2 separate regions of the Homo sapiens genome follow, and region 2 is linked to region 1. Evidence: fine-mapped expression QTL. A gene starts in region 1. The other region holds a variant in brackets. All regions are shown on one strand. Distances are between the middles of the regions. Region 1 holds the start of ARTN (artemin). Region 2 overlaps ST3GAL3 (ST3 beta-galactoside alpha-2,3-sialyltransferase 3).

The links.
Region 2: its variant is fine-mapped to the expression of ARTN in sun-exposed skin (GTEx, PIP above 0.99).

The regions. Positions count from the first base shown.
Region 1 is chr1:43,929,300-43,941,202 of GRCh38, reverse strand. ARTN (artemin) reads right to left here and starts at 7,402. Exons shown (of 5, transcript NM_057091.3): 1 at 7,318-7,402; 2 at 6,943-7,091; 3 at 5,487-5,613; 4 at 4,972-5,110; 5 at 3,963-4,901. The coding sequence starts at 5,546. The coding sequence ends at 4,438. It overlaps ST3GAL3 (ST3 beta-galactoside alpha-2,3-sialyltransferase 3), which reads right to left. Exons shown (of 12, transcript NM_006279.5): 12 at 10,044-11,071. The coding sequence ends at 10,982. LINC02918 (long intergenic non-protein coding RNA 2918) reads left to right here and starts at 662. Exons shown (of 2, transcript XR_947283.2): 1 at 662-973; 2 at 2,410-3,307. RefSeq lists silencers at 4,378-4,567, 4,688-4,737, 6,761-6,810, 7,361-7,450 and enhancers at 4,682-5,276, 5,277-5,871, 7,961-8,010, 8,640-9,140, 10,326-10,385 and 1 more.
Region 2 is chr1:43,856,509-43,864,508 of GRCh38, reverse strand. The region is part of intron 5 of ST3GAL3 (ST3 beta-galactoside alpha-2,3-sialyltransferase 3); the gene reads right to left. Among named protein-coding and RNA genes, the nearest start is that of MIR6079, 22 kb to the right of the region's middle. RefSeq lists an enhancer at 5,771-6,389. The variant TCTATACAAGTCCTGACAGC/C (reference allele first, on the strand shown) is at 3,056.

The DNA of each region.
Region 1 (11,903 bases):
TTCAGCCTCCCAAAGTGCTGGGATTACAGGGGTGAGCCACCACGCCCAGCCAATTTTTTTGTATAAGTATGTCTCAATTATTGCATTGGACATACTGAAAACAAGTATTTAGGCCAGGCATGGTGACTCGCACCTGTAATCCGAGCACTTTGGGAGGCCAATGTGGGAGGATCTCTTGAACTCAGGAGTTCGAGACCAGCCTGGGTAACATAGCAAGAGCCCATCTCTACCAAAAAAATAAAAATTAAAAAAATTTAAAAATTAGCCAGTCGTGGTAGAATGCACCTGTAGTCTTAGCTAGTTAGGAGGCTAAGGTGAGAGGATCGCTTGAGCCCAGGAGGTGGAGGTTGCAGTGAACTGAGATCACACCACTGCACTCCAGCCCGAGGGACACAGCAAGACCCTATCTAAAAAAAAAAAAGGTGTATTTATTGTTTACCTTAAATCCATTTTTTTTTTTGAGACAGAGTCTCACTTTGTCGCCAGGCTAGAGTGCAGTGGCACAATCTTGGCTCACTGCAACCTCTGCCTCCCGGGTTCAAGCGATTCTCCTGCCTCAGCCTCCCAAGTAGCTGGGACTACAGGTGCGTGCCACCACGCCCAGCTAATTTTTATATTTTTAGTAGAGACCGGGTTTTACCATGTTGGCTAGGGTGGTCTCACTCTCTTGACCTCATGATCCGCCCACCTCAGCCTCCCAAAGTGCTGGGATTACAGGCATGAGTCACCACGCAGGGCCTGAAATCCAAATTTAACAGGATGTCTTTTACTTTTATTTGCTACCCTACCCCTACTTCCATCTCCAAGTATAGTTTCCTTGATGGCAAAACATGTTTCTCACTGGTCTCTGAATCCCTGAAACTAGCCCAGTGCACGACAGTTCATGCTCGGTTAATATGAAGAGAAGGCAACTTATCTGGCTGCAGCGCTGAGAATGGTTGGAGGGAGTTGTGACTGGAGACAGTGAGACCAGGTAGGAGGATGAGGAATAAACCATCCAAAAAATTATGAAGGCTTCAGCAGAATAGCACTGGGGATAGGGAAAGGGGATGGATCTGCAGGATCTAAGGATTTGGTGACCAATGCTTAAGGGACATGACAGAGCTTAAGGAGCCTAGGAGATTGCCCAAGTTTCTGGCTGTGTCACTGGATGAGGTTGGTGCACTCACTGAGCAGGGAACACTGGGGAGGGTCTGGAAGCTGGACAGCAGGGAAGCTCATTGATGTGAGGAGCAGAGCAGGCTGGAGAAGGGTGGACAGCAGATCTGAAGGAGGAAACGGAAGACATCCAGTATGGATATGTTAAGCTTGATGTCTCCCAGGATATACAGATAGAGGTATTGGAATTACAGACTTGGGGCTCAGGTGAATGTTCTAGGCTGGAGATAAAATGTGAGCATGGTTAGCATGGAGGTGGTAACTGAAACCACGGGAGTAGACAGTGCTGCTCAGGGAGAGAGTAGAATGGGAAGAGGAGAGAGAGTCGGTATCAGAGCTCTGAGGAACATGAGAGGCAGAGAGAGGAAGAGGAACTCAGAAGTCGTCTGAGAACAAGCCTCTGGAGGAGTGGAAGGAGAACCCGGAGAGTATTGGACCAAGAGAGTCACGGGAAGACAGGTTTTCAAGGAGGACTGACACTATCGAATGCTTCTGAGACTTCAAAGGACTAAATGGCCTTTGGCTTTAGTATTGACCAGAGTCACCTGTGGCCCCAGGAGCTACAATGTGCCACCTGGTGACAGGTTATAGCTACTATGTGGTAAACAGAGGTACAGCTCTGCAGCCTGTTTCCTTTGGGGAAAACAACCTTTTCTTTCTTGCTTGCTTCTTGCTTTCTCTCTCTCTTTCCCCTTCCTTCCTTCCCTCTCTCCCTCCCTCCCCCTCCCTCCCTCCCCTCCTTCCCTCCCTCCCCTCCCTCCCTCCCTCCCCTCCTTCCTTCCCTCCCCTCCTTCCCTCCTTCACTGTCTTCCTTTTGATTTGGGTTGTCCTGAGTTGCAAACTGAGGCTAATTCATATGGGAATGTGTTCTTGGAGCTGTTGCTGTCTTGTTCCGGACTCTGAGATGTTGAGCACAAGCTGTCTGGGGCCCAGAATGCAGCCTCCAGCTGGGGTGAGCCCTGTTCCCTCAAAAGCTGGCAGCCTGGGGAATGTTGACAGCCAGCACCTTTGGCTTGGGCTGTGGCCCTCTCACTGTGAGCATTGTCAGAGATGGCTTCAGTCAGTCTCCTTTACTGGCTCTGGAGCAGCCGTGTCTACTGAGTGGCAGGGTTTGGGGACTAGGCTAGGCTTTAAAGTCTCACTAGCAGGGGGCTGCCTGGCCCCAATAACCCTGGAATTGACAGAATGTCCTTCTCTGCCTGCAGCCAGCCCTCTGTAAACTGTATGGCCCTGGGGCCATTTTCTTTGCAGGAGGGAAGGTGGAACTAAGGATCCCGAATCCGTTTGGAGGCAGAGAGGGGCCAACAGGGTGTTTGAAGGGAGCAAAGGCATCGAAATTTTTGGAGCATCTAGAACTGGGGCAGTGAATGCAGAAGAGTGGGAGCACACACACGTTTCTCCTCCTTGACCCAGAATGGGCACAGCCTTCAGAGAGCTCTTGCCAGCTCCTCACTCTAGCCTGGGTGAAGGGGGCATCTGTGCCAAAGCAGGAAGGCACACAGGCGGATTGGAAGGAATTTCTCTCAGCAGCGTCAAATGCCTGAGGGATCTCGCCCTCGACCCTCTCCATCTCTCATGGTACTCTCATTCACCCCCGGCTGCAGCTCCTGCCTCTGTGCTGACAGCTGTCACATCAATCCAGCCCAGACCTCCCTCGGCAGCTCTAGACCAGCAGATCCCACTGCCTCCTGACAACCCCTCTGGATGTCCCACAGTTCCTCAGACTTAGCATCCTTTCCAAATCCATGCCCCCATCTCATTTCCAAAAAAGAAAAATCATAGAGGCCTCCCCAATACAAATGCATAGGACATGGGAAACAAGGTTTGAAAGGATATCCAGAAAAGCTTAGGGATAGCCCTGGCCTTTTGGAGGTGACTTGGGGGTGGTATGAGAGGCCAGAGTCAGCAGTAACTTCTCCTTTCTTCCCCACGAAGGTGTGGACTTCTTAGCTTCCTGTCCTTTTCGTACCATTTGCCAAATTGAATTTAAATAATTATTACTGTAATTGCTTACTTATTGTCTGTCTCTCCTGGTTGAAGCTTCTCAAGGGCAGGGATCATGTCTGTTTCACTTCTGTATCCTTGGCATCTGTCATATAATCAGTATCTGACATATAATAGGTGCTTAATAAATATTTGTTTGAATTAATGAATATCCTTGTTCATCACCCAAGATGCAGATCCTGCTGGGGCCCTTATCTTTTCCTGCCTCCTTATCCACATGGAGCTCTGTGCTTTGCTCACCGGAGCCAGCACCCCACCGCACCCTCTACCAACCCTCGGTTTTTTTCAGATGCCCTCATGCCCTGGGCTGCTTCATGGAATGTGGATAGTGAGTTAACCATGCTGGCCTGTCTGCAAGCAGAGGCATGTGTATATCTGACAAGGCACCCTCAAGACAATTCCCTGGATGGTAAGACACTGATCAATGACAGTGGGGTGGGGCAATGGGTGCTTCTCTGTGTCTTTACCCACTAAGCGGGGGCCACAAAGATGCCAGAGGTCACAGAGACAGGGCTTTCTCCACAGAAGCCTCTGTAGTCTCTTTCCCCAGAGGTAAGCCCAGGCCCAAGTGAGCAGCCTGCCAGGACTAGTGACTGCACCCTTGCTGCCCGCCCTGCCCCTGCCTGTGTTCCATGCCTCCCATCCCGGAGCTGCTGGGTGGGGGCCGAAGATCCAGGCCAGGTCTGTGATTGCTGAGTCAGCCTGAGGTGTGTGAGTGCGATCAGCAAGGCATGATCTCCATCCAGCCTCTTCTTCCCAACCCCCTGCTGCCCAGGAAAGGATCTGACAAGCCACAGAAGTAAATAAATAACTTAGAAATAATAAATAGGGGCCAGCTCCCATGAGTGAGTACAGGCCAGTTCCAGCACAGGCACTTTCAACCAAGCAACTGCAATATGTGTCCTTCAAATGCTGTCCCTACAGGGCCTGGGCGGGGGCTGATGCCTCAGCCACTGTAGTGTTCATCAGAGGAGGGGTCCCAGGTTCGAGGCCTGGCCAGTGCCAGAGTCTGTGAGAAGTGGGTCCGAAGGGCTCCATAGCTGAGGTCTCTGGTGTCTTTTAGGCTGGGATCCGCAGGGTGAGGGCTCTGGGGCTGCTAGTCAGTTGTCCCTTCACCTGTTCGGGGATGATATCCATCACCCACCGGCAGGGGCCTCTCAGCTTTGAGGCCTTCGTCCCTGGCTGAGGCCGCTGGCTAGTGGGACTCTGCGGGAGGGTCCCAGGCAGGAAGAGCCACCGGTAAGGGTCCAGTCTGCAAAGCCCTGGAGCGAGCCCTCAGCCCAGGCAGCCGCAGGCGGTGGCGGAGAGGCGGTCCACGGTTCTCCAGGTGCTGTTGACGTCCATGAAGGAGACCGCTTCGTAGCGCGTGGGTCGGCAGCAGGGCTGGCTGACGGGCCGGGAGCCCGGGGGCGGTCGCAGGGCCCCGGCGCCCAGTAGGCTGGCCAGGCTGAGGTCGTGTGGAGAGCGCGCGCGGCGGCAGGAGCCGCTGCAGAAGCGGAAACGCACCAGCTCGTCGGAGCGGTGGCCCAGGCCGAGCGCGCGCACCGGCACCAGCTGCGAGCGCAGGCGGCAGCCCCGCGCCCCCGCTGCCCGAGCGCGGCTGCCCGGGCCCCCAGCCCGCGCCGCGCGGCCCCCGCGGGGAAGAGCAGATGGGGGTGCAGGCGGCGGGGGCGCGGGCCGAGAAGGCTGCGGCGGCGGCCGCCGGGCTCTTCCACTGCACCAGCGGGCCGTGCGTCCCCCTGGAATGAGACCCAGTCACGCGCGGTGTCCCGGGCCAGCCCCGCCCCGCCCCCTCGCCCTCTCACCTACCCGGCAGGTGGCCGGCGGGGGACGCCAGGACAGGCGGGGGGCCTTCGCGGGGGGCAGGGCTGCGGGGCGCGGAGCCCAGGGAGGCCTCTGCGACGCTGCTCAGCAGAGCCAGAGCGGCCAGGGTGGGCCACAGGGCAGGCTGCGCGGAGAGACCAAGTGGAGCCTCAGGGAGAAAGAGGGCACCCAGGTGGGCTTGGGGAGGAAGGACCTCAAGGAGGGGCTGTCCTCGGGCTGAGATCAGGCCGGGCATGGGCTCCTAGCTGTGTGGAGGGGAAACTCAGGAAGGGCCTAGGTTCCAGTATAATGGGTTTGCTGCCTCTGGGAGCCCAGGGGAGGAATCACCTGAGTGCACCGACCATTCAGAGAAGTCCCGCTCCTCCTCCCATTCACCTGGTCCCTCCCTGACCATTTTCCCTCCCACACCTAACCGCTGCCCAAGCCAAGCCCTGCTCTCCCTCACCAGTCAAGCCGCCTTTCCTCAGTACCAGGTAGGAGTCACTGGGAGAACCACTCACCTGCTGCCTAGGCCAGGGGCAGTGGGACAGCGTGGAGAGGCCTCCAAGTCCAAGTTCCATCTCTATCAACACCAGGAGCGCCCATCAGCCATTGTTGAGCTGTTCCCCCACCCTCCTGTTGAGGCAGCTTGCAAATTAAGAGATGAGTTATCTTTTGTGGGGGACCGGCCTGCCACCCCAGTTTCTCCAGGTGAGGAACAAGGGGCCTACACAGCTAGACTCAACCCAGCAGAAGTAGCTGCACTGGGAACCTTACTATGTGTTAGGTGCTTTGCAGCTATTCTTTCACAACTCCATGAGGTAAATGGTTTAATCCCCTTTTTCCAGATGAGCAAACAAGGCTCAGAGAAGCTCAGAGGTTGTCTAAGGTTACAAGGTCACACAGCTGGAGGGGAGAGAGGGGTCCTCTTTTCCCAGAACCTTCCTGCTCTGCGTTGTAGGTCTGGAGATGCCAGAAGTGGCTGGAAGGAGTTATAGCTGGACACACTTGGTCCTACAGAGGCCTTCACCCCAGGCTGCCGGAGAGGAAGCTGAGGGCTGGAGAAGAATTAGGGTGCTAGCTGGTCACTCTAAGAGTTATCTAATGATAGTGAGCCCCAAGCCTCAGCCTGTGCTGCCCACCCAGAGCTGCTTCACCTCGCCCCTCTGTGAACTGTGTTCTGGACCCAGAGCCACCTGAGTTCTCTCCTCTGACTATAGGTGTCCCTCGATGACCACAGAGCCGGGGGATGGTGGGAGCTAATGGGCCCTCTGAAAACATGGGGCCTGGGTCATGGCTTCCTGTGGCCACAAGGGGGCAGAGTCTGCCAAGCCTGCAGATTCCAAGCAGGGTGGGCTTTTCCATCCCCTCAGCTACACTCAGGCCTGAGCCACTCCCAGGAGGGCCAGCTAGGCTTCCATACCAGCCTGGTCTCTGAGAGCTGAGCCACCCTGGGAGCTGGTCTAGGTCTGTCCCCCTCCCAGCCTCCTATGGATCTGGCAGCCTAGTCATGCTCCTAGAAGTTTCCCCCTTGAGCCATCGTTCCTGATCCCAGCCAGCCTTCCTGAGCTCCCACTGCTAGCACTCCCAAACACCCTTTTGGGGCCCTAGAGCCTTCGTAAGTCCTCATTAGCCAGCCTCCTCTTGGGTCCCAGCTACCACCCTCATCCCCATCCTTTAGCACACAGAATGCCTGCACACCTGTGGAACAGACCCCCAGGCCTTCCCGGGGTTGTCCTCCAGGTCCTGGTGTGTGCCTCTTGGCTAAGTGGAATCAAGGCCTCCGAGCCAGGCCAGTGACTGTTGTCCGTGATGGAGGGAAAGGCAGGCAGGGCAGCCTTAGGAGCCCTCTGCGCTAGGGGGAGCCCGGGAGCAGGTCTCTTGAGGGCAGCTCAGGCCCTGCCTCCTACCTCCTTGTGGTCTAGGGCCATTTGGTTCTCTGGCCCTTGCCTCCCCATCCACCAGCCCGCTACTCACCACGGGGTCCTGCACCTTGTTCTTCTAGGCACCTTTCCGGGGACCAGTGCTGGGCTCTCCCCCGAAGCTCAAACAGCGCATGCCCAGGACTGTACACCTGGCAGTGCCTCTTTTAGCCAAAAGTGTGGCCTTGGCAGCCAGTCTGCACCCTGTAGCGGCAGCGGGAGCCTCACATTACAGTGGGCCGGCAAGGCCAGCACAGTCCAACAAGCGACAAGAGGGACTGAGGGGCTGGGAGGGGCGGAGAACTGTGCCGAGGGCCCAAGAGAGGGAGGATGCAAGAAAGGAGAGGAGGGGGGTGGTCCTGTCCTCTCCCCCAGCCCAAGAGCGTCCATCCAGGGCTGGGACCAGAAACAGGCAAGTGGGCTGGCTTACCTCGGGTGTGGGGCTCCAGGCCCGGGTGGCAGCGAGGGCTGGGGCCCGAGGGACCTGCTGCTGGCGGAGCCCCCGGGCCTTGTCTGGGGGCCGGGCCCAACTCCATCCCTCAGCAGCCTCCTGCCCGCCGCCGCAGCCGTCCGGTGTCAAATTCCAGCCCCAGCGTCACCAGATCCCGGGGTGGGGCTGGGAGCGCCCCTGCCCCGCCCCACCTTTCGGGGCTCACCTGGCTGCTCCACCCGTCGGATCCAGTCCCCCCTAGCTTGGCTAGGTCCCCCGAGGTTGGGAGGGGGGTAGATGCTGGGAGGGGCCCCTCGGATATGGAGAGTAGAGAACTCGAGCGGTGGAGAGGCACGGAAACCGGGAGTTGAGTTTGTAGACTCGCGAAGTAGAGAGCTGGGAGGCCGGGCCGAGGGCGGGAGAAAGTGAGTGAGGGCGGGGAGCGAGGGGTAAGCCGGTCCCTGCGTGGGGCGGCTGACTGCTGGTACGTGCAGATTTGGGGGTCCGGCTGTCTGCCCTGCAGCAGCTGCTCTCTGCTCCACCCGATTCTTCTCTCAGCGGCCAGTTCACCTGCCTTGTTGGGTTGCTTAGCCTCTGCGCAGCTTTCAGGATCTGACTCTGCTCTAGTCTCCCCACAGCTCACCTCCTGTGCTGCTTAGGGCTTGGAGTACGGACACACTTGCAAACACGGGAGTCACTGGGGCACAGCAGGGGCAGTGTTGGCAGAAGTGGGTACTGAGGGCTGAAGGCAGGGGTCACAGAGGAGGAACATCTGAGCTGAGTCTTGAAGTAGGTAGCTGGAGGGCAGCATTTCAGATGCCTAATTATGGCAATTTGGCAGGTGGGTTGAGGGCTGGGTGAGTAACATGGATGGAAAGATCCTAACACTGGGGACCATGGGAGGGTTTTGAGCAGAATGGTGTAATCAGACAGGCATTTTTTGTGGATGACTCTGGCTGTAGTAAAGAGGATGGGGTTGGAGAGAAAGGTGGAGGCTGCTGTGGAAAGAGGATGAGGTCTGATGCAGGGCATGAGGGGAGCGTGGGGCTGCCAGGCCCCAATCTGGAACACGCAATTTTGAAAATTCATTAGTGCCTGACTGGATAGGGTGAGGAGGTAGGTAGACCCTGCAAAAGTGTGCCTTTGGCGGGGTGACCTGGGGGAGGGGTACATCCCGGCTCCTGGGAGGAAAGGCAGGGGCTCATGAGTTCGGTGTTGGACATGTTGAGTTGGAAGGGCCTGTGGATTATCCAAGTGGAAATGTTCAGGAAGCCGGTGAATTTGTAGCCTGGAAGGAAGCAGAGAGAGCTGCGCTGGCAAAGGCAATTTGGGAATTGTCAACCAACTGGCAATTGGAAGCTGTGGTCAGGGATGAGAGTGCTGGGGATGTGTGTGGACCAGCTGTACCCTGGCTATGCTTCTGAACCACTAGGGACCTTTAAAAACTACCCACATCCGGGCCTCAACCCAGACCCAAATCAGACTTTCAGGGTGGACATGTGCAGTTTTCAAATTGCACAGGTGATTCTGGTGCATGGCCAGGGCTCAGAACCATAGCTGGTGTGAAAGTAGTTTTCCGCGGTGGTGAGGACTAGAAGTCAGACCACAGAGAACTGCTGCTGGAGGTGGTGGGGCTGCTGCAGGCGTGCCAGGAGCCCCCTGGGATAGGAGGCCAAGCAGGGAGCAGTCTGCTCTGTCACCTCCCACAACCGGCTGCTCAGTTGGGGCACCTGCCTTGGGGCTTTTTCAGCCAGGGACACCACTTATGGCCATTCAGCCTATGCCCTGTACAACTCCACGGGGCACCATCCAGGCAGGAACATGTGCATGGTAGTGGCCTTATTTCCGGTAGAAATGGAGGGGGTTTCTGGGTTGACCTGTCCCTCAGTCAGGGCCTCCCTTACCCCCCTAGCCCAGGAGGCTTCTGCCTAAGGCCGGCCACAGTGGGAAGGAGCATGTGGGAGGCTGCTGGTCCCTGGGATGGCCGGGACTCCAGCCTTAGGGCTCACCAGTGGGAGGGCAGCCCAGGGCTGCCTGGAGTCTTGGATTGGGGTGGGCAGGAGAGAGGAGCAGGAGCCGGCCACCCCACTTACTGCCTGCCACAGTGGCAGTGTGTGACAGAAAGCTCACTTCATGGCCTCAAGTGCAGGCGACAGTCTGGTCTGTCCATTCTCAGGCCTGCCTGGGGATGCTGGGGAAGAGAGGGATCAGACTCTAGGACTCTTAAGAAGGCGACGTGATATCTTTTCTAAAGTATGACAGAGGATACCTAGAGCAGGGCTGAAGGGAGAGGGTGTGCCTCTGTGCTAATGATTGGGGCTGGGGCATGTCCTTCCCAGAGGGACGGGAGTGTCAGTAGTAGGGTAGGTCTGTGAGCCTCTGCTTGCTGCAGGGGCTCAGCAGTATATCTTTCCTGTGCTTGCAGGAATATCTGTCCTTCCAGAGGTGGGGCTGTGGCACCCCAAGGCAATGTCCTAGGGCTCCAGTCCTGTGCCTCTGTCTCCTCTAAGAGTGTGCCCTGAAACCTCTGGTCTCAAAGCAAAGAGGATACAGGAGATGCTCCAGAGGCCTCTGGATGGCTACCTAGGTCCTGCATTGACACAAGAAGTGAAAGGGACCCAGGACTCTGTGGACTGGAGAGAGGGCCCGAGGGTTTGGCATAGTTGCTAAGGCTTTAGGTTCCTGTTTCTTCCAGGAAAGTCAGAGAAGGCAAAAAGAGGCCAGGCTCAGGGAAGAGCTTTATTGCTTCCATGGGGGTGGCCTGGGACGGCTGCCACAGCTTGGGTAAGCTCCTTGGGCCTCACTTCCCTTTGGTCCAGGCTAAAGGCAGAACCCAACCACCTGGCAGTCTTGTTGCTGAAACCTAGAACATGTGGCAAGTTGGTGAGTCCGGGCCTGCGGTAGTCCTATGGATCAGCTGCAGCTGTGGAGGGGAGCTCTTCCCAGCAGGCGGAGCTGGGCGTCACCCTCCTGAGCTTTAAAGTTCTTTCTGCTATAGCCCTGGGGCGGTCTTGTTGGCTCCGAAGGGATGGCTCCAGGGTTTCCCCATGGGACAGCTAGGGCTGGTGAGTGGGAATACCCCGCCTTCTCCCCAAGAAAGGCCAAACAGTGTCATGAGCTGGAGGGGGCTGGCTTGAGATCCTGCCCACCATCCTGTAGCCCCACAGCAAGGTACAGGCTGGTCCTGGCACTCCTGCCCCACAGGGAGCTAACAGGTAACACTGCCTGATGGGCCCTCTAGTGGGCCTCTTCCTGCATGGCAAGTGAACCCAACTTGACATCTCCAACCTTATTTAAAAATAAATTATCCCTACCCTCCCCCCTACCCAAATTCACAAAATGATAATACACCAAACACTGATTGGAGAAGTGATTCCGGCAGCAGCCTTGCTGCCCAGTGTCCCACCACCTGCATGCTGGGCCTGCTGGGCACAGCCAGGAGCCTGCTGGCCCTCTGGCATCAAGGACCCATGCTGAATGAGGCTGAGTGCTGGTCTCTGAGACTGGCTGCTGAGCAGGCACAGCTCTGGCTGCTCCACCAAGGCCTTGCTGCCCCTGGGGCCCTTGGCACCGTCCTTCTCTGGGTCTGAAGACTCCTGTGTAGGTGGTGCTGGCTGCTGCTCCTGGTGGTGCCTGGGCCTCTATGGCCATGTGCTGGGCCCACTCAGATGCCACTGCTTAGATCAGTGATGACGCGAGCTTTCACCAGCTTCCGCAGAAACTCTTTCTCTCGCTGGATATTGTGCGTCCAGGACTGAAAGGAGAGATGAAGTGATCAGTTGGGCCTTTGCTCAAACCTTTACTGCCCCTTCCAGGGCTCGGTGCCTTCTTCGTCACCACTCTCCAATACTCCGTGACTGTGGAAACCTGAAGGCAGATACTGGTAATCAGTTGTGTCTACACGGTAATGATGACCCTGCTCTAGGAGTGCCACAGCTCATCCTCCTCCCTTCCCAAGACAGGGAAAAAAGAACCTTCATACCCCTTTCCTCGTCCCAGGAAAACCGTTAAGCTTCCCAACCTCCCTCCTCAGTGCTGGCGGAAGGACCTTGTTCCCACAGACTTCAAGCCACTTCTTGTCATGAAGCACCTAGGTTATAGACACCCTGCGGGCAGGCAGTGTGAGTCACTGAAGTCCAACAGCAAGGGGTGGCTGAGTCACTCCCTGGCCTGATGCAATCTACTCTCCAGGCCTGGGGGCGGCGGATGAAATCCTGCCTCCCAGATCAGAGGAGCTATGGGGCCTGCGGAGAGATGGCAAATCTTTTTTAGAAAATTAAAAATAGGCCAGGCGCGGTGGCTCACGCCTGTAATCCCAGCACTTTGGGAGGCCGAGGCGGGTGGATCACGAGGTCAGGAGTTCAAACCAGCCTGACCAACATGGTGAAACCCTGTTTCTACTAAAAATACAAAAATTAGCTGGGTGTGATGGTAGCGCCTATAATCCCAGCTACTCAGGAGGCTGAGGCAGGAGAATCGCTTGAACCCGGGAGGCAGAGGTTGCAGTGAGCCGAGATCGCGCCACTGCACTCCAGCCTGGGCAACAGAGAGAGATTCTGTCTCAAAAAAAAAAAATAATAATTAAA
Region 2 (8,000 bases), 75 kb after region 1:
AAGTGTGTCTCCTTCCCTCCATGTGATTCCTGCCCTTCCCTAGATTCTCTACCTGGCCAGTTTCTAACTGTCCTCCAATAGGCAGCACAGGTGTCCCCATCTCTAGGAAGCCTCTCCTGCCTGCAGTTTGGTTAGGGGCCCTTATCAGAGCACACACAGCTCCTTGTGCTTGCTCTGTTGCTACAGTAACCACACTGCCCACTCAGTTTCTTTCTTTGTTTTTTTTCCCTGAGACAGAGTTTTGCTCTTGTTGCCCAGGCTGGAGTGCAATGGCGCCAGCTCAGCTCACTGCAACCTCCGTCTCCCAGGTCAAAATGATTCTCTGCCTCAGCCTCTCAAGTAGCTGGGATTACAGGCATGCGCCACCATGCCCGGCTGATTTCTGTATTTTTAGTAGAGACGGGGTTTTGCCATGTTGGCCAGGCTGGTCTTGAACTCCTGACCTCAGGTGATCTGCCTGCCTCAAGCTCCCAAAGTGCTGGGATTACAGGCATGAGCCACCACGCCCGGCCCCCACTCAAGTTTCTTATCTGTCACTCTCCCCTAGACCTCTGCACAAGGCTTGGTAGACAGTGAATGCTTAGGGGTTCAGGGAGGGGCAGAATACTTGGGGTCTCTGGAGCTTGGAAGTGGGGCAGCAGTCACCATGGGCAGGTCCAGATTGGGATCTATGAGGTACTGATGCAAGCATGCTCTTCTCTGGAGGCCTGGTCGCTGCTCCACAGAGATGGAAGAGGAGGAGGAGGCTTCTCCCACACGCTGAGGACACTCTCTGCCAGACTGGGGCCTCTGTGGGGTCTCCCAGGATTAAGAACATCATACTGAGCAGACAGGCCCCATTTTAGGGGGCGGAAGCTGGCTTAGTGATGGAGCTATGCTTTCCCCAACCCATTCTTTATTCTTTATGATCTCCGAATTGCAGAAGCAGAAACTGCTCACCCTTGGTCTGAAGCTTTTCGTGACTTGTGCGAAGAAATGTCATCAACAGCCTTTTGTTTGAACTTGACTTGTGTGAATGTGCCAGGGGACTTGCTCAGAAGAGTCTTTTCAGATGTCATTTCTGTTTGTCTATAACCCTGGTCCATGCAAAGTCATTCACAAGCCAGTTTTTCTGAGGCTCCGGGGCTGTCATAGTCTCATTCTTGCCACAGCCCGCACAGCTACTGTGTGACTGCCTTCAGCCTGGAGTGGGTGCAGGGCTTCAGCCTCCCCACAGCCCCACACTTAGCAATGGTGTGTGCTGTGGCCAGGTCAGAGCCAGGCACTGAAATGCAGCTGTGAGGGAGTACCCAACCAAATCTCTCACTCTCAACTTGACTTGAATGTCTCTGAAACCCTGAGCTACAACTTCAATTTACTTCCCCCAGACAGTGAGCTGGGACCATGCCTGCGTTTTTTAAAACCATTTCCCCAGTGCCCACACAGTGCCCAGCACTTGATAAAAATGTATTACATGAGTGAACAGACAGATATGCAATATCCAGTTATTTGAGTCAACTGAGGGAGACCGTCAAACTCAATGTTTTGAAGGAAGAATAATCCAGAATTTAATATGTCCTTAGAGCCACTTTAGACTCTGTCCACTGTTTTTTTGAAACTGGGTCTCACACGGTCACCCAGGCTGGAGTGCAGTAGCATGATCACAGCTCATTGTAGCCTCAACCTCCCTGGCTCAAGCGATCCTCCTGCCTCAGCCTCCTGAATAGCTAGGGCTACAAGTGCACACCATTATGCTAATTAAATTTTTTTTTTTTTTTTTTTTTGGTAGAGACAGAGTCTCGCTATGTTTCCCAGGCTGGTTTCAAACTCCTGGGCTCAAGTGATCCTCCCGCCTCAGCCTCCCAAAGTGTTGGGATTACAAGTGTGAGCCACTGCGCCTGGCTCTGCCCACTGTTGATGCTGCTGGTGTTGGTCCTGGGAAGGAAGCCCAGAGTGCTGGGCCCAGCTGCACAGTGGGCCTGGACATGGCAGAACACCCAACTAGGTCAGTAGGACCCGCCGCTTCCATTTCCCTCCCCAAGCCCAAGCCAGCTGCAAGGAGTGTGGTGATAGGATAAAGGCAAGAGAAATGGGAGCTGTCCCCAGTTTAGTCAGTCACCAAGTGGTGATGGAGGGTAAGATAGAGGTAAAAATTAGACAAGGTCTCAGGAGGGAATTATAATGTGGTATACACAGAACTGTTACAGATAGAGGTGCACACAGAGCTGGGGGAGCTCCAGGGCAGGAAAAGCTTCACAGAGGAGGTGACATCTGAGCTGGAGTTTTAAAGGTGGAGAATGTGAGGACAGACACTCCAGACAGCACATGCATGTGGACAGCTGGCCAAGCTGAGTGCCTGCCTTGTCCAGGCCCCTTTGGAGGGGAGAGGCCTGCCACAAGCAGTTCTCTCAGCAGAGACTGCTGTGCTTGATGCCAGACAACGTTCAAGTTACTCACTGAAGTAAAAGCAGTAGTTGTCTCTCTTTTTTTTTTTTTTTTTTAAGACAGATTTTCGCTCTTGTTGCCCAGGCAGGAGTACAATGGCGTGATCTTGGCTCACCGCAACCTCCGCCTCCCGAGTTCAAGCGATTCTCCTGCCTCAGCCTCCCAAGTAGCTGGGATTACATGCATGTGCCAACACGCCCGGCTAATTTTGTATTTTTAGTAGAGACGGGGTTTCTCCATGTTGACCAGGCTGGTCTCGAACTCCTGACTTCAGGTGATCCGCCTGCCCTGGCCTCCCAAAGTGCCGGGATTACAGGCGTGAGCCACTGTGCCCGGCCAAAGCAGTAGTTCTTAAGGCAAAGAATATGGAGAAGCACTCCAGGTTGGGGGACTAGCAGGCACAGCACAAAGGCATAAAAGACTATGGGTTAGTAAGGCATTGGCATGTAGGGGTTACGGCACCAGGAAGCATCAGCTTAAATTATTAATTTAATTTATTAATTGAAGCATCAGCATAAGTTATGAGTCATCGGTTGCATCCTGTGTAGCTGGAGTTGCCAAAAGCCACATTTCCCAATATGTGGAAGTATTTCTGTATCAACAAATGCCAGTCACCTGGGTTTGTATGCAG[TCTATACAAGTCCTGACAGC/C]TCCACACCAAGACATATTACTGGAAGGTCTCCATGAGAGTTGAGGCAGTCAGAGCATAAAGACAGAACCACACTTACCACCCCAGACGAGGCACTCACTGCATGCCAGGCACCAGGACACACATGTCATGGACATTATTTAGTGTTATCCCCATAAATGCCCATGAGATGGGGGCTGTTATTCGCATTTTGCAGATAAGGAGGCTGATGTTTAACATGACTAAGGGCTTGTCCAAGGTTATACAGCTAGCAAAGTAGCAAAGTTGGGATTCTAACCCAGGTTTGCCTGATTTCAAAACCTAAGCTCTCTTCACTTGCCCAGACGGAGGCAGAGGAGCTCCCAGCTGTATTCCATCTTTGCTGAGAAAGCATGAAGGAGATGCTGTGAACCTGGCACAGGCACACAAGGTCAAGCCACAGGGATCGGTGAAACAGCGGTGAGGCCAGGTGGTAAAGATGTACCCCTCGTCCTCCGACCAGCCTCACCGCAGTGCCAACAGATGACAGTCTAAGTACAGTAAGACCACTTTTGCCTCAGCTCAAAAGCTTTCTACTTCCTGAACCTACCCTCAGAAAAGGTCTGAAATTAGGCCCAGTTACAGGCTGGAAAAAATGATCAACCTCTGGCTAGGGAGAACATGGTGACTGTAACCCACATAGCCTACATCCCTCCACTGCCCTCCCTTTCTGCATCTAGCACTCCAGGGGTTAGGGAAAGGGGCTCATGGCTAGACAGGAAGAGACCTGCTGCTCATGGAGGATGGCCCTTGGGATCCAGATGCATGGCAGAAATGGCCAGTCCTACCTTTCTTCCTTTAGCAAATGCTCCTCTGTGGAGTACCTGATGAGGACTGGAACAGAGATGGATAGAGCAAGGCTCACCCTTTGCTCCTGAACCTCACTCTACATGCAGCTGTGCCTTTGCCAACAGCTTTCCTTGGCCACGCTGGGGTCTCTGAACCCTGTGTTTCCTCTCAATAATCTGAGCGGTAGCAAAGGAATGCATCTCTATGAGAGTTAGCAACTTTCCTGGAGCAGGCCCACTGGAGACAGGGCTGCGTCAGGAGCCCAGGCCTCCTGGATGAGCTATCTTTCCCCACAGCCTTGAGTGTGGGTCACGGTTTGCTGTGCTCTACCCTACTGCCTCTTGCACTCTTCTTCATTTTGCCCCCAAAATGACTAGGCTACAGGCAGAACTGGCTAAACCAGAGGCAGCTGCTGACCATGTTTAAAAAGGTCATTGCTTTGGAGGAAGGATTCTTTCCATCAGGAGGCCCACATGGGCTCATGGGGCCTGATCCAACCAGTGGTCATTCTCCTTGCATACGCCCTCAGGGGTAGGGAGGGGCAGAAAGAAGCCCTTCAGGGGAAGGGACTTGGGTATCAGGGACCCCTGTGTGTGCAACAGCCACAGGGCAGGAAGAGAAGGGCACAGGAGCAGAGGCAGGGGGTTTGAGATGGTCAGAAGCGGCCTAAGGGTGAACATATAGCTGGCAGAGTCCTGCCCTTAATCCCTCTTGCTGGTCTTGAGGTACACATGAGGATGGGTGATGGAGACGGGGAATGTGGTGGAGACAGCCCTTAACCTGGCCAGAACCTCACTGATCATAGTCACCTTGGACACATGGGAGCAAGGCCAGTGGAGACAGCAGGTACAGAGCCAGCCCTCATCAGAGCTGGTTTCTGAGCTCAGGCCTCAAGCACATGCCTTGCCCCATTTGGAGGACTTGCTCCATTTGGGCATTTGCTTCTTAGAGCAAGTTCCGCAACTGGCAATTGGCCTGTGGCCCAGACACACTATCTGAAGGGGCTGAGCAGCAAAGCCAAAGGTGTCATTTTGTTTTTCCAATCATCTGGTTTTTTTTCTTTTTTTTTTGAGATGGAGTCTCACTCTGTCGCCCAGGCTGGAGTGCAATGGCGTGATCTCGGCTCACTGCAACCTTCGCCTCCCAGGTTCAAGCGATTCTCCTGCCTCAGCCTCCTGAGTAGCTGGGATTACAGGCATGCACCACCACACCAGGCTAATTTTGTATTTTTGGTAGAGATGGGGTTTCTCCATGTCGGTCAGGCTGGTCGCCACCGTGCCCAGCCCCAATCTTCTGTTTTCAAACTATGTTCGGAAGTTGTCCAGTGTAGGAAACTTCCGCATACTAAGCCCTTGAAACCGAGGGAGAGAGGATGGGTCTATCCCAACACAAGGGCCACAAAGATGTCACAGGGCCAGCTGTCAACAGGCCTTTTTTCGTGATGCTGCCAACTGTCAGGTGTGTGTTTCCCTGACCAGGAACTCCTGAGAACAGAGGCCACGTGGCCCAATACTCGCCACATCACCCTGGACAATCTCATCCACACTCTGGGGGCTGTGTATGGACCTACGTGCAATTTGTTTTCTTCCAGCCCAGACCTCTCTCCTGAGAGATTCACTGAACTCAGGCTCCCTGAGTAGGGCCGTGGCTTCCCTCTGACACTTCATTTGCCTGGATCTGGACTCTTTGCCTGCATCAGGGCAGAAGGCAGAGCCAAGGGCCCTCATCATGGCAGGCAGGCATAGACTCATGTCCTGCCTCCACAGTGGGGAGGCAAGGCTTCAGCCCTCCTTCTCCCCTCTAGCTCTGGCTATTTATTTGGGGAGACCAGTCAGAGAGTGACCTGTCTCCCCAGGTGCAGACAGAGTAGGGAAAGCAGGACACAGTCCTGAAGGTGCCAGCATCTTGCTCTCTGCTGAGCTGCTGCCTCATCGCTGGGACTTGTGTGGGTGGAGCTCAGACCTGGGCCCTCCCTCTCACTGAGGAACTCACAGGGCTGCTTGCTCCTGGCTGGGAGCCTCACACAGCTCAGGAGGAGGGCCAGGATCATGTTCTGTGCTTTCACCAGCTTTTGCTCTTCACAAGCAGCAAGAACTCCCCACGTGGGGATCTTGTACCTGAACCAAAAAAAGCAAAGCTGCTAATCTGACAAGATCAATCCTCAAATACCACAGGAATGCAGCCAGCCTGCCTGCTCTCACCAGGGACTGTGCTTCTAAGCATCCCTACAGTTCCTGCTCCTAGGCTGGAGCCTGGAACTGGTCTGCAAAGGAGGAAGCTGCCCCCACCAGTGTGTCTGGTCTTGCTGCCGAAGCCCCACCTTTCCCAGCATAGTTCAGGCATCAGACTTCACCAGGACGTCTCCCCAGTCAATCTCTCATCACTCCTCCAGCTGAAGGGCCTTCTCTGTGTCCCCACAATCCTCTGTCTTCACCTCTGGCGGAGCACATATGCCTGGATATGTTTTTGTCTCCATGCACCATTTCTCTTAGCTCTGGGGAAGATAGGTACAGATGAGGAAGGTGAGGCTCAGAAAGGTTGAGCAACCCAGCCCTATTCACTTCAAAAACCTGTTCTTTCCACTGTAGTCCGACACTTCTCAAACCATCTGTGAAGAGGGATCGGTTGGTTTTGCTTTTTAAATTTCTATTTTGTCACAGAATGATGATTTTATAAAATAGAATAAAAATGAATCACTAGAAAAGTTAAATAAGGCCAGGCGTGGTGGCTCACGCCTGTAATCCCAGCACTTTGGGAGGCTGAGGCAGGTGGATCACCTGAGGTCAGGAGTTCGAGACCAGCCTGGCCATCATGGTGAAACCCCGCTTCTACTAAAGATACAAAAATTAGCTGGACATAGTGGCGGGCACCTGTAATCCTAGCTACTTGGGAGGCTGAGACAGGAGAATCTCTTAAACCTGGGAGGTGGAGGTTGCAGTGAGCCAAAATCACACCATTGCACTCCAGCCTGGGCGACAGAGCAAGACTCCGAGGAAGGAAGGAAGGAAGGAAGGAAGGAAGGAAGGAAGGAAGGAAGGAAGGGAGGGAGGAAGGAAAGAAAGAAGGAAGGAAAGGAAGGAAGGGAGGGAGGGAGGGAAGGAGGAGGGAAGGAAGGAAGGAAGGAAGAGGGAAGGAAGGAAGGAAGGAAGGAAGGAAGGAGGGAAATACACATATAAAATATAAGCTCCATTTTTAAAAGTTTGGTTTTTTTGGGTTTTTTTTGGTAACAAATAGCTGAGACCACAGGTGCATGCCACTGTGCCAGGCCTATTTTTTATTTATTAGATTCAGCAACATAAACTTACTCTAATTGCCATAAATGTTTTCAAAAACCTTATTTCCAGTATCTCAAAAATCTTGTGGCAGACCAGTTCATATCACTTTTGATTCTATAGCACACAACAGGTTCCAAACTGCCTTTTGCCTGTCTGGGACATTCTACCAAGGCTTTGCCTGTCATTCACCTTCCAGTAGAAGTTAGAAAGGGATAAGATGTAGCTCCTCAGGTCCTGTCCTGGGGTAGGAGAAACAATGTACTCTGACACCATCAGAAACAGTTAGCAGGTTGAGGCCTAGAACTTCTCCTACAGCTGATGGATTTATAACCAGCTAGGTCTGCAGGATTCACCTTTGCAAGCAAGTGTGGGTCCCTAATCATCTGAGAAGGAGATCTAAAAAAAAAAAATCCCACAACTTCTGGATGTCTACCGCAGCTCCACCTATGAGAATTGGAAGATAGAGCAAAGAGGAAAGAGACGGGGTATACCATTATAGGGAACTGGCAGGCTAAATTCCTTGAATAATGGAGGAGGCAGTAAGCTCAGACAAGATGTGGAATTAATTTAAAAGCAGAACATGGATTAGTTCCCAGAGGAGGTCCCAACACCTGACGCTAAGGAATATATGAAAAAAAATTGGTGGGCAGAGAAAAGGAGAGGACACAAATGGCAATTCTTCCAGCTGTAAGCTGGAGTCCAGGTCATGGACAGGCATTGAGGTTGTCTAGCCCATGCAGGCTACTCTTAGACACTCTGCAGAGAAGCTTTAGTTATAGAGCACTCTGCTCTTCCCAGAAAGGTCTGTACCCAAGGATTTCAACACAGCAGGTACCTACTGAAAA